4 linked regions of the Homo sapiens genome follow. The protein of the gene in region 1 purifies or fractionates together with the protein of each later gene. This does not show direct contact. Each region holds a gene or a part of one and is shown on either strand. Other genes may lie near its edges.

Region 1 (3,500 bases):
CCTTGGAATCTTTACCAAACCCAGGTCTGAATTCCCTGTGACTGTGTGTGTGTCTCTTAATCTCTCTGAGACTCAATTTCTCCTAAGACAAAAAAGAGAGTAGATATACTCTACTTTATACAACTGCCAAGAGGAATCTACGAGGTAATGAGGGTAAAAGTACGAGCAAAAAGGTTGTCAGAAGATAAACTCAAGGAATGTTTACAAAAATTACTTAAGACATGAAAAGAAAACTCAATTCTTTTTTTCCCTTTCAAATTTTAATTCAAGCTGGCCGGGCACAGTGGCTCACACCTGTAATCCCAGCACTTTGGGAGGCTGAGGCAGGTGGATTGCCTAAGGTCAGGAGATCAAGACTAGCCTGACCAACATGGTGAAACCCTGTCTCTATTAAAAATACAAAAATTAGCCAGGCATGATGGTGGGCACCTGTAATCCCAGCTACTCTGGAGGCTGAGGCAGGAGAATACTTGAACCCAGGAGGTGGGCATTGCAGTGAGCCAAGATGGCGCCACTGCACTCCAGATTCGGTGATGCAGTGAGACTCCATCTCATTAAAAAAAAAAAAATTTAGTTAAAGACAGAGAGGTTTCATTCAACTACTGTATTAGTCTGTTTTTATGCTGCTGATAAAAACATACCCAAGATTGGGAAGAAAAAGGTTTATGGACTTACAGTTCCACATGGCTGGGAGGCAAGGAGGAGCAAGTCACATCTTACATGGATGGCAGCAGGCAAAAATTCCCATTTTTAAAACCATCAGATCTCATGAGACTCATGCACTATGAGAACAGCACAAGAAAGACCCACCCGCTCCCATAATTCAATCACCTCCCACTGGGTTCCTCCCATGACACATGGGAATTGTGGGAGTTACAATTCAAGATGAGATTTGGCTGGGAACACAGCCAGAGCATATCAACTACTTGTTGATGCGGAAGAGATGAAATGGAAGACAGAAAAGATGCATTGCAAGAGAATGCAAAGTGGAAGTGTCTTTGACTCCATAAGGGGCTCAGGGCCTGAAGATTTAAAGCCCCACTATAGGAAGATGCCCCCTCCCAGAACTGAGCTGCTGCAGCTACCACACAGATGCTCAGGCTGAGGGTTGTGGGCACCCAGGTAAGCAGCTGACTGAGAAATATGAAATTTTAATTTACCTCCACCTGTAACTGTGGGGCTGATATTCCATGCTTCCTTTGGCTCAAAACCCCTTCCCTGAAATTGCATATATTTTCTTTTTAAGCAGAAGAGCTGAAATGATATCAGTGAAAAGAATGAGGTTAGCTGGGGAGGGTCTGAAAATATCCAAGCAGTAGACACTGGATAATAATCAAACCCACTCCCTACCTCACTATCCTACATCACTGATTCTCAATCCCCATTCTCCAGATCCCGCACCTCTGGAAATGCCTGGAGACATTTTTGGTTGTCACACCTGGGGGATGCTATTGGCACCTAAGGCTGGGGATGTTGCTAAACATTTTACAATACACAAGATAGCCCCCAACAACAGAGAATTATCCGGTCAAAAACGTCAGTAGTGCCGAGGTTGAGAAAACCTGCTCTACACAAACAATTTGGGTTCATTCTTCTCATTCTGTTTTTTACTGTATGTACTTAATAAACAGATCAAGAAAAATAAAACAAGCCCTTCCATAACATACACATGCTCTGAGAAGACAAGAGATGGAAGCTGTGCTGAGAACAAGACTGAGATGATTACTTCTATCACAAGATAAAAAATAATGACTACGTGAATTAGTTTTTACCCTTAATTATTTTTTATTTATTATCCTCATCAAGCCAGGCAAACTAAGCCCATATTCCTAAAACTATATTATTTTTAAATAGCTGAAAGGAGTACATTTTTTTCTGATGGCCATATGTGAGATGGATGCCTCAGGCACAGGGCTGTCCCCTCCCTCCCTCACCATGATAGCCATACTGCCACTGGTTTCTGGACACTCCTATATTCTTGTTTTCCCATTCCTCACTGAGCTACACAAAATACATTTATTGAAGAGCTGCTCTGTGCCCAGCTCAACTCTACAGCTGGGGCATAGCCCTGAACAAGACATGTTCAAATCTCTCCTATCCTGAAGCTTACATTTTGGAGGTGGGGATACAGACAGTAAACAAATAAATTTAAAAAATAGGAAACAATTCTGGGTAGTAGGTACTGTAAAGAAAGATCAAACAGGGTAAGCAGAGAGGGAATGGGTGTCTGGGTCAGGGGTGGGTCATCAGGGAAGGCTCTCCAAGGACATGACATTTGAGCAGAGACCAGAAAATGATGCGAGGGAACCTCAGGCAGGCCAGAGAAGAGCCCTTGCAAAGCCCTGAGGCTGAAATGAGCTCGGCGTGTTTAAGGATTAGCAAGAAAGCTGGAGAGGAGTGAAGAAGAGAACAGCAGACTTTGGAGACAGTCGGGGGCCAGATTACAAAAAGCATTGCAGGCCTGGAGAAAGAGTGTGGACTGGATTCTACATGTGAGAGGAAGCCACTGGAGAGACATGACTGACTTACACTTTCAAGAGGTCACTGTGCCTGCTGCTGGGTGAAGGGGGGACTGCAAGGGGCAAGTGTGGAGGCAGGGACCCCAGTTAGGAGGCCACGGCTATGGCCCAAGTAGAGACAAAGGCTTGGACCAGGGTCATGGTAACAGAAGTGTTAAGAAATGTTTAGATTCACTAATCTCCTTAAAGACGCCAACATTTTGGAGCTAAAAGAGGCCTTCAGAGTAATTCATTCTAGTCTATCATTTTACAGATGACAAAATGAAAGCCCAAGGGGCTGAAATGAGTTACCCATAGTCATAGACCTAATTACTGACAAAGCACAAATTTCCTGACTGCCATCACTATACCTCTGCCCTTACCTGGCCAACCCAGGGCTGGGGTGGGCAATGCAGAAGACAGGTAGGCACAGGAACCCTCTAGAGGGTAGTCCTAGCCAAAGTCAAAATAAATGACTCTCTTTGCTTTGGGCAAGGTCACCCTAACATCCTAGCCAAACCCAATGGGCCCTTATTGAGCTCTCTGCAGCATCTGACACTTCTGACTCCTTTCATTTTTTTGAGACTCCCTCTTCCCTTGTCTTCCCTGAGCTCCTCTCTCCTGTCTCTCCGTCCTTTAGTTCCTTACCAGTCTTGCTTACCTGCTAATCATCCTACCCTGTAAGCGCTGCAGTTTTCCAAGATGCCCTCTGGGGCACTATTTCTTCCTTTCTCATCTACAGAGGAAATTAACTGTCGGCCTCCTCGATATCTCTTACCCTTGTCCAGCAGTTGCTCCTCTGGAGACCCACCCTTTTCACACACCACATCCATGTGGCTTCATGGATGTGGACACATGACCTATGCCTCGCCAATCAGCATCTTCGAACTTCCTTTGATGTAACAACAGTGTTGCTGAAACAGCTGGGAGAAGGACAGTTCCCCTTTCACATTGGATTTGAACCTGCAGCTTTCCCCCTTGCCAGAGCTGCTGGGGATCACC
Region 2 (3,500 bases), on another chromosome or scaffold:
TGAGGTCTGGAGTTCAAGACCACCCTGGCCAACAGGTGAAACCTGTCTCTACTGAAAATACAAAAATTAGCCAGGTGTGGTGGTGCACACCTGTAATCCCAGCTACTTGGGAGGCTGAGGCAGGAGAATTGCTTGAACTCGGGAGGCGGAGGCTGCAGTGAGCCAAGATCATGTCACTGCACTCCAGCCTGGGCAACAGAGCAAGACTCCATCTCAGAAAAAAAAAAGGAGGACAGAATAGGAAGACATGAAAAATTATCTCAAATGTAATTAGAATGTCCCAGTTTCCTTTAACCTCAAGTACACAACTATGGAGTGGTAAGATATACAGGGACAGCAGTGAAAGTCAAAGCCTCCTGATGAAGGAGTAGGAATCTCCTATGGCTGCTGTAACCAAATTACACAAACTTTGTGACTTAAAACAACACAAATTTATTGAGTTTCACTGGGCTAAAATCAAGGCGTGAGCAAGGTTGCTTCCTTCTGGAGACTCTAGGAAAGAATTCATTTCCTTGACGTTTCTAGCTTCTGGAGGCCGCCCACACTCCTTGGCTCATGGTCCCTCCTCCTTCCTCAAAGGGCATCACTCCAACTCTGCCTCTGTCATCACATCTCCTCTGACTCTGACCCTCCTGCCTCTCCTATAAGGACCCTGTGACCACATAGAGCCCACCTGGATAATTCAGGGTAATTCTCCTTTAACATACTCACATCTGCAAAATCCCTTTACCCATGTAAAGTAACACACCACAGGCTCCAGGGATTACCACATGGATTACCAACTTCAGGGGCCATTATGCTGCCTACCGCAGAGGGGAAGCTGATTTAACCCAGTTTAGAAAAGTCAAATACAAATGAAACCTCTATACCTCTATCCCATTCCTTTTTGCTCTTCTATGTTAGAAAATCACTTCAACTTATGTTGGCTATTGGATTTGTTTCTAATACATCATTCCACTAGAAGACTTTACAACCACGTGAGAAAAAGAAATGCAGCCCCTGACATCTGGGAGCTGGCCTGGTAATATCACAGCTGGGCCTTGGTGTTGCTGTAAACTGGCTAACAACTCAGAGCAAGGCACACACCTAGGCCTTGATGACTGACTCTTCTGCTGAACATCAACAATTTCAGAGAACATCAATATCAGACAAGACCATGATGGATAAAGACTAAACAAGACCACTCTGTAATCACTCCTGAACACAAGCAAAAAAAAAAACATGAACATTGTCCAAATCACAGAAATGACCAACTCTCTATCCTGGCTAACAGGAATGACTGTTGCTTCTTTACCAGTTACAGCTTTAGCTTTATTCCAGTCTTCTTTCCTTCTAGAAAAGATTTCTTAAGCTATCCAGTTACAGAATTTTTCCAGCTTCCTAACAGCACCCCATACAGATCAAAGCCTCACTTCCTTAAACCCTTCCCAAACTACCTAGTAGAAGCCCAAATCCCATTTGAAAAGTTACTGAAACACCCCACAGTTCCCCATGGAACTCACTGAAATATGCAATAAGCCCAATTTGTCCAACTACAGGTGTGCTCTTGGAGGTCTTTCACTGGAGGGCAATGACAAAGGTCAGAAGACTACAGACTCCAAGATAACTGCATTCTGAACTTACATACAAGATTGGTGATTGGTTCCCACCTTCTGCCCAACCACTATTCCCAAGTGGGAAGGACTAAAGTTTTTTATCTCCTGCATAAAGGGTAAGCCATAGAGTTGAGGGCAAGACACCAGTAGAAAACAGCAGGTAAACTCATCTAGAGAGGCAGTAGATGAAGGATACTTCTATCCCCATTATCTCCCCACCTCCCATTTGGCCTAAAAGGAGCCAACTAAATGGGAAGGTTCTAAAATCTCTGTTGTGTAAGTCCCAGTCTGGCTGGGCACGGTGGCTCATGCCTGTAATCCCAGCACTTTGCGAGGCCGAGGCAGGGGCGGATCACCTGAGGTCAGGAGTTCAAGACCAGCTTGGCCAACATGGCAAAACCCCATCTCTACTAAAAATACAAAAATTAGCCAGGCATGGTGGCAGGCGCCTGTAATCCCAGCTACTTGGGAGGCTGAGGCAGGATAATCACTGGAATCTGGAAGGCGGAGGTTGCAGTGAGCCAGGATCGCTCCACTGCATTCCAGCCTCGGTGACAGAGCGAGACTCCGTGTAAAAGAAAAAAAAAAAAAAGTCCCAGTCAACCCCAGACTTGGTTCCAAAAATATTCTAGCCAAGAGGGGAGCTTAAGCCATACCCAGGATAAGGAAGAATTTAGATTGCGCAGCCAGGCCAGGCATGGTGGCTCACACCTCTAATTCTAGCACTTTGGGAAGCTGAGGCAGGAGGATTACTTGAGGCCAGGAGAGTTCAAGACCAGTCTGGGTAACACGGAAATAACCCGTCCATACAAAAATGGCCAGACGCATTGACTCACACCTGTAATCCCAGCACTTTGGGAGGCCAAGGCAGGAGGATCACTTGAGGTCAGGAGTTTGAGACTAGCCTGGCCAACATGGTAAAACCCTGCCTCTACTAAAAATTCAAAAACATTAGCCGGGCATGGTGGCAGGCACCTATAATCCCAGCTACTGGGAGGCTGAGGCAGGAGAATCACTTGAACCCGGGAAGCAGAGGTTATCGTGAGCCGAGATTGTGCCACTGCACTCCAGGCTGGGTGACAGAGACTCCATATCATAAATAAATAAATAAAATTAGCCAGGCATGGTGGTGGCACCTGTAATCCCAGCTACTCAAGAGGCTGAGGCACAAGAATTGCTTGAACCCAGGAGGTAGAGGTTGCAGTGAGCTGAGATAGTGCCACTGCACTCCAGCCTGGGTGACAGAGTGAGACTCTGCCTCAAAAAAAGAAAAAAAAAAAAAAAAAGACTTCCTTCAAGTAGGAAGATCTCTTGAGCCTGGGAGATAGAGGCTACAGTAAGCCGTGTTTGTGCCACAGCATTCCAGCCTGAGTGACGGAACCACACTCTGCCTCAAAAATAATTTTGTAAAGAGTCACAGCCTACAAGGTGGCAATCCTGATAGCTGGGAAGCATCCTCCCGCAGAGCACAGAAACAGACCTTCAAGGGAGGATAGAACAGGGATTTATGCTGAACGGGTTGGCCAAGTTTATATATTTAACAGGTTATAGGAGGAGCTATGAATATTCACAAAGTGGGGGAGGTCATGCACATGCAGGCTGAATAAACATGTATGTTACATACTTATCCATATTCACTTGTGGGTGGAGACTTAACATCTAAAAGGATTACAATGAGGCCCTGTAGTCAGATGGCGAAGCAGGGACATGAAGGCACTGAAGTGCACAGCCTCTGTAAACTGGCCAGAACCAGTTCATGCTCAGTGCTCTTATCAGGAGAAAGTTACTGAAATCAGTCTCTTGTCCAATCAAAGCTATAGTTATGGCTTGTGGAACAGGAGAGTGGGGATCACTTAGGGTCTGGCAGTGAGTGAGCTGCAGTTATCTTAATATTGCTTATCTGGA
Region 3 (3,500 bases), on another chromosome or scaffold:
GTATATAAGTATAAAATATCTTGAAAGGAGTAAGTCACTTTAAATATAGACTCTGCCTGATGGGAGTCACTGTGATTGAAACCCTGAAAAACGTAAAAACAGCTGATGGTCCATCACTCATCCCTACTGGCATTGCTTACCTAAACTGATCAATTGAACTAGCAGCTTTGCGAACTTTTCCGTACATTCCTGCCAGATTAGTTTCTGTGTCATTAAAAAGAACAGGAACATTTCGCAGACGAGTGCCTGTTTAAATAAGAAAATAAATTAGTGTACTGACATAAAAATTAACTAAGACAATTATAATTGGAAATACACTGTATTACATGTGGAAGGAATTTTCAAGGGCAACTTTCTAAGCATCACCCCAAAGTAGATGAAACTATAAAGAAAGGACAGGTAAATTTGATGACATAAATATTTAAACATCCATATCCACAACAAGAAAAAAGTTTTAAATAAGAAAATGATTTTAGCAAAAATTAAGAAATTTACAAATACTAAGCGTTGACAAGAGTCAATATTAATGGGCCCTTTGTTCCTATGTGAGGAGGAGTGAGGCCGGGTGGTCTTTCTATGAAGCAGAGGACTCCCAAATGTGTACTCCAGCCCAGAGGCTTCATCCCCTGCCAGACTCATCCAACTGCCTATTCGCTTCCATCCAGATATCTAACGGGCACCCCAAAGCCTGCCTAACACTACAATTCAGAGTTCTTGTCCTCGCTGTCAACCTGCCTCAGCTGCCATTTCCCTGTCTCAGGACATCACAATTCCAATCCTTCCATCTGCTCAGGCCAAAACTCTTGACTTCTTTCTCTCAAACTCCGTATCTCATCTGCCAACATATTCTGTCAGCTTACCTTTAAAATAAATTCTCAGTCCACCTTCACAATCCCACTCAGTTCTAGACTACCATCTCTCACATGGATTAATGCAATGGCTACCCACCCACCTCCGGCCTCCTCTTGCCCTGTCTCCCTGCTTCCACTTTTAGCCCTGTGCAGTCTATTCTTGACATGGCAGTCAGAGGCAGCCTATTAAGGTGCAAGTCAGATCAGTCCCCCCTCTCAAGATCCTTCAATGGCTTCCTACCTCATTCAGAGTAAAAGTCCCCATACAGGCCTCAACGGCCTATTCTAAGCTCTCTGGATTCATCTTACACAAGTGTCTTCTTCACTCAGTCTACTCCAGAGGCCTTGGCCTCCTTGCTGTTCCTGAAATATGCCAGGAACATGCCTGCCTCAAGGCCTTTGTGCCTGCTCTTCTTTCTGCCTGGAACACTTTTTTTCTATGCCTCCTCATTGTTCACTATCTTACCTCCTTTGGGACTTTAAAGAAGTGACACTTTTCACCGTATGTTCTCACTCATAGGTGGGAATTGAACAATGAGAACACATGGACACAGGAAGGGGAACATCACACTCTGGGGACTGTTGTGGGGCTGGGGGAGGGGGGAGGAGGGATAGTATTAGGAGATAGACCTAATGCTAAATGACGAGTTAATGGGTGCAGCACACCAGCATGGCACATGTATACATATGTAACTAACCTGCACATTGTGCACATGTACCCTAAAACTTAAAGTATAATAATAATAAAAAAATAAAATAAAAAAAAAAAGGTGAAACCTAAAAGAAACTGAAAACCCTTAAAAAAATCACAGAAGTTATGGTCAGGAAAATTTTATTAATTTAAGCGAGGCACTTTTTATTTATGCCATTAAGGAGTATGATTTACTTATTTATAATTTCATTTTTACTTGTAATTAACAATTACAAATAAAATGATAATTATACATTAAAAAAAAAAAAGAAGTGACACTTTTCAACGAGGTCTTCCTGATCACCCTTTTTAAATTACAGTGCCATCCCCATACCTGGCACCCAGCGTCTCTTAAACAATTTTTTTTATTAAAAGAAATAATTTAAAGCCAAAGAACTGAGAAATTTGCTGAATGACAATTTGTAGACTTTACGAAGTTCCAAGATTAAAAATCTGATCTGTTGATGCTTATACTATCTTACACATTATTTTTTAATTACATATGTTGGGAATCTATAGATTTCTTTAGATATGGTTATGTGAACTATGTATTAGCTCTAATACCCGTAACTATTTACTGGAAGATTATTAAAGCAAATCTTGTTTCAAGTGTCCTGAAAGCTCCTCTCTACTGAATTCCTCGCCTTGTCAGCATCATCTTGTTAAGTGTCTCAGACATTACAATATAATTATCAATCCTCAGACTACTTTCCCCAAGTCTAATACTGGTGAGGAATATTAATTAGTCCATTATCCGGTTCACTAACAATACTAAACAGTACGTGGCCCAGGTCTCATATCAGAAAATTGAGTCCTTCACTGGATGAAGTTTCTTTCAAATAAAAATAGTCCTTCTATAACTTTTCAAAAGCATGTTTGAATGAAATGTTCTTTTGAGATTCCTTTTTTGATTACCTTCACCATTGTCAATTCCAGACATATTAATCGAAGACCCATTACTACTACTTCCAGAGGCGGAGTTCATCTGCTGTTCGAGGCGCTCCAGTTGAAAGACCAGGGAGTTCTTTTCTGTGCTGAGACTCTCCAGCATGGTCTGTTTCTGGATGAGAGTCTCTGTTAGCTGATGGAGTCGATTTTCTAACTCAGACTGACTGCTATTGCTTAAAGTTTTATTGGTAAGCTGAAAGAGAAAGTGTTCACAAAATTCTTACATAAAATGAAAGTCATACAATACAGAAATCACACTACTACATTTTCATAGGTAAATTGTGGCATTCATTGATTTCTCAAAACTCTATACTGACTCAATGTCTACAAAAGTGATTTTCAAAAACTGGGGTCATGAAATCAATTTGGTGGGTCAAAATCAGCATTTTAGAAAATGTAATAGAATGGGACATATTCTGATATTTATGTAACATATAGTATATATAAAAGTATAATTTTGTGAAACTCCTGTTTCAGTTTGGTACATGTAAGTGCATGTCAGTACTGAGACACGATGTAAACTGTTTTTCTCACTGAGGCGTCATGGTCAAAGTATTTCAAAGCATGGGTTTAGAGGACACAATCCACACTTTTCAACAGGGATTCAAAAGCCTCCGTCATTCAACAGTTACGGTGCAGTGCAAAGATCACACTCTGAGGTTTTCATCTCTGCTCTGCAATTTTCAAGCTATTTGACTTCAGGTTAATTGCTATACTTCTCTGAATCTGTTTCCTCATCTGTTAGTGAAGATGACAGCACCCGTTGCACATGGTATTTAGGGACAGTAAATGATAGTTGTCCTAGGAGACTCTGGCTGAAAGTTGATACTTAACGACTTCCTTCATTCCATCTTCCATCTGGTCTTATCTGTCTCCATCTCCCTCTACTCTCCTCCAGCCTCCGCTATGCCGGCCACGTTTCCTCTGTTTGGAAACTCAATCCCCTTCTCTTATCTAGGCTCCACCTGCCTTTCTTTCTTATAAATCCCTTACAGCACTCCCCACAAATT
Region 4 (3,500 bases), on another chromosome or scaffold:
TGGAGCAGTATAACTACCTTCTGGCACATGGCTTCTTTGAGCATTTTTTCCTTCTATTTCTGCTGTTAATTTTTCAGCAGATCTCTTTCAACACCACCACCAAAGTATTCCACATAACTCAAGACAGTAATTTACTCACAAAGAAAACACACCTCCAACTTCATTAATAACCAACTTTTTTTTATTAGAGCAGATACAGTTGTGAAAACTGTACATTATACATTTTGGTTTCAAGAATTATAAATAAAGGAACTCACAGGTAGGGAGTTCTTTTTCACAGCAAGAAACTTTAAATAAACAAAGTCATGTTTTATTAAGTACATTGGCAGACTTCATGTGCTGTCCAAAATGTTGAGTACAGTATAACAACCCATTAGAAAGAGCCTTCATGTAAAATACAGCTGTGCACATTTTAGAAAAATACCAACAATTTGAGCTTTGTTTTAAAAAAGCTTATAAATCATACATATATTTATAAATGGGACCAACATGCTCACTTTATAAACATATCCTCTCGCTATCTGTTACCCATTATTTCCAAAGCATTACGCATTTTAAATGAACACTTAATAAGATTAAATATTTTATTATTATTTTTTTAAAAAACCAGCTTTCCCAGCGTAAGGAGCTATAGGGTTTGGGAGGGGCAGTGAGAGTACTGAGAGTGACGCAGGAACTTTAAACATTTGTTCTCAGGTAAAAACGGACTTCCTAAATTTAAAAGTCAAAGCAAAATGTAAAAAATGAATATACAAGTTGAAATTTTTCATTTGCTCTCTTTCTGCCTTCTTCTTTATTCCATATTGGTCACACCCAGGATTTTCAACATATTGTGCTTCTGTAAGAAACATCACTGGGTTACTACCCTGCAGGTGACAAAGCACTCAGTCCACATCTGTGCTAACCAGGGAATTGTGTGAACTGTCTCTTCTCCATTGAAAAGGTAGCTAATATGGTGTAAAAAAAAAAAAAAATCTGATTAAACCATGCAAATCATGAAAATATTTAGGAGTAGCTCCCCCTCTGCAATGTAATGTTTTATAAAGATTTAATAGATTAGATAGATATCTTTCTTCCCCTGATTTCTTTTTAAGTAATTACTTTTATAAAGACCATTTAGTTTCTATAAGTAAGCATGCTTCTGAATAACAAAGGGTAAATTATAAAACAGCAAAAATCCAGAAATGTCAGAATGACAAAAGACTGTAAAAGACACATATTTAAAATAAAAATGTCTAAGCCTTTAAAATGTGAAATGAAATTACAAAAGGACTTTGAAAAACAGGAAAGGCAGAAAACTGAGAGGCAGTGATTGAACAAGGCTTTATGTTCTACCTGAATGTATTCAACAGAAATTTAAGTTGGAAAAAGAAAACAAGAAAGAGCAGAGCAGTTTATTAATAGCATCTTGCTTAACTTTCATGGGAATTAACACAGCCACCGACAAGATTTTATTTGGTTGTAAAGTACGTCAGCAAAGAAACTGAATCCTTTAAACACTGATTACTGCAATCCATGCAACGTTTGGACTATATTTCTTAGAATTCTGTTGTGTTTCAGCTTTTAAAATTTAGCACTTCCTAAGTGCATAAATAATTCACCTCAGTAATGTTAAAAATATTTAGAATTAAATTAGTTCTTAGGAAGGCATAGTGTCTTCAAATTGCTAAATTTTAAAGATAAATAACCTTTTACAAGTATAGGAAGAATAAATGACATAAAAGATGGTATATTGCTATCAAAATAAGCACATTTTCACTAGCATTTTGTTGTTTCTTTTCCTTGAGATGCAACACGTGTGTTTCGTCCGGCCAGGACCGCAGGTGGTAGATGACTATACGTCAGATTTAAATAAACAGCAAAAATGAACAGAGTCGTGCACAAGCAAACGAAACGTTCTCTCCCAGAACATTCCAGGAGATGTTAAAGCAGCAGGTCATGGCATAAGACTGGTGAGTGATGCTGCTACCTATTTCTTCTAATGAGATAGGAGTGAATGTTGGAACCACGTCCACAGCAACACAATCCTCCGACCGCATTCCTCGGGCAGTCGTTTCCCCAGCTCCCTACTAAAAACGTCAGATGGTAAAATAGTAAGGCAGCTGTTGACTTCCATCAAAAAAAAAAAAAAAATGCAGCTCCATACATTTCCAGTTTAGTCACACTCTGCTAGGACAGATGGAGTAGCCAATGCCAAGAACTTCGCCGGATGGGGCTGCTTCAGCAGATTTTAAAAAAGAATTATTATTAAGTTTTGCTCTCCAACATGGCCGTGTGCTTCAGCTCCCAGAGGACCCCAAAGCCACAAAGCACTCCCAGGGGAACCGAACAGGTCCTCTGGCTGAATTTTCCAAGTTTCATCTCTCTCGCGATCCCATCCTAATTCCAAGCCTCCTTCCCTGTGTCTGAGTCTGCCTGGGGTGGGCCATTTAAAGGGCTGACGGCACCACTGCAGAGAACTGTGGGCTAACACACCACTAGTTGTCAGGACTTCACTGAAGGGTCAAAACAGTTATAGCAATTAAGTAACTATGTTGAATCACATTCAGGCATAGCCAAAATTAAAGTGAAGGACAATACGTCATTGTTAAAAAAAATAGCAAATTTGCATATGAGAAAAGAATGTTATTTACTATGATTTTAGATAGAAATTAAGGCGATTCTTACCTTTCCTAATTCCAATCAAGTTAGAAAGTGAACAAAAAGAATGGCCAACCCGATATTCAACAGCATGACAAGGACAATCATGATTGAATTAGGGCCCTGAAAATGAAAGAGAACAAAGTAACTATAACTTCTCCATGTTAATATCAAGATATTACCAAAGCCAATTACTGAAAAAATGAGAAAGTTAACATGATTGCAGTAAATAAGGCATAAAAGATGACAGCAGTTCGGAAAGGTGTAGACTAAAAACGGCAATGCTATGTTTAGATGGAGACATTTCAGAACCTTCACTTAAAAATGAATCCAGGCTTGAATTAGTTTAAAAACGTTTTAAACAACTGATCCACTTCATTCACCTCAAAACAATGGACAACAGCGTGTGCTGAGACACAGCTCACCCTAACAGGGCCTACGAACGGCTGGGAGTTAGACGTGCATTTGTTGTTAGAATGCAGTTCAGATGAGGAAGAGCTGCTTCCTCCACAGGGCAGTTAGAACACGAGAGCAAAATCTGTAGGACAAAGCCACCTCCAAGGAACAATTCAGGGAAAACTCAAAACGAGGTTCTCTACCTCTTGCTTTTTCCCTGGTCCTCTGTTTGGACACCACCCTTTCCGTTAAGTAAAAGCTGTAAGTGAGAAGTTGGATACTTTCAGAAGTTATCTTACAGGCCCAGCTTTTCAAATTTCTCTAATCACAACCACAACATTTCAGAAATGAAGTTATATTTTACAAACTATGGGATCCTATTTTGATAAATATCATTATAATAAATACCAGATAGTTGTCCAAGGGCCCCAAATTTTTACTTGTTTAAACAAACCAACCTCATA

What was found. Proteins that work in one complex are often made in the same cells at the same time.
Region 2: the proteins of GPR161 (region 1) and LMBR1 purify together in Homo sapiens (affinity purification with mass spectrometry; 2 studies listed by BioGRID and IntAct, with this or other methods). This does not show direct contact.
Region 3: the proteins of GPR161 (region 1) and GOLGA5 purify together in Homo sapiens (affinity purification with mass spectrometry; 2 studies listed by BioGRID and IntAct, with this or other methods). This does not show direct contact.
Region 4: the proteins of GPR161 (region 1) and JPH1 purify together in Homo sapiens (affinity purification with mass spectrometry; one large-scale study listed by BioGRID and IntAct). This does not show direct contact.

What each region holds. Positions count from the first base shown.
Region 1 is NC_000001.11:168,126,931-168,130,430, forward strand, and holds part of GPR161 (G-protein coupled receptor 161), read right to left. Parts: intron 1-3,500. UniProt on the Homo sapiens protein: Key negative regulator of Shh signaling, which promotes the processing of GLI3 into GLI3R during neural tube development.
Region 2 is NC_000007.14:156,883,184-156,886,683, forward strand, and holds part of LMBR1 (limb region 1 protein homolog), read right to left. Parts: intron 1-3,500. UniProt on the Homo sapiens protein: Putative membrane receptor.
Region 3 is NC_000014.9:92,832,305-92,835,804, reverse strand, and holds part of GOLGA5 (golgin subfamily A member 5), read right to left. Parts: intron 2,684-3,500; coding exon 2,458-2,683; intron 247-2,457; coding exon 141-246; intron 1-140. UniProt on the Homo sapiens protein: Involved in maintaining Golgi structure. Stimulates the formation of Golgi stacks and ribbons. Involved in intra-Golgi retrograde transport.
Region 4 is NC_000008.11:74,234,541-74,238,040, forward strand, and holds the end of JPH1 (junctophilin-1), read right to left. Parts: intron 2,764-3,500; coding exon 2,683-2,763; 3' UTR 2,668-2,682; exon of another isoform or gene 2,496-2,667; 3' UTR 160-2,495; downstream 1-159. UniProt on the Homo sapiens protein: Junctophilins contribute to the formation of junctional membrane complexes (JMCs) which link the plasma membrane with the endoplasmic or sarcoplasmic reticulum in excitable cells.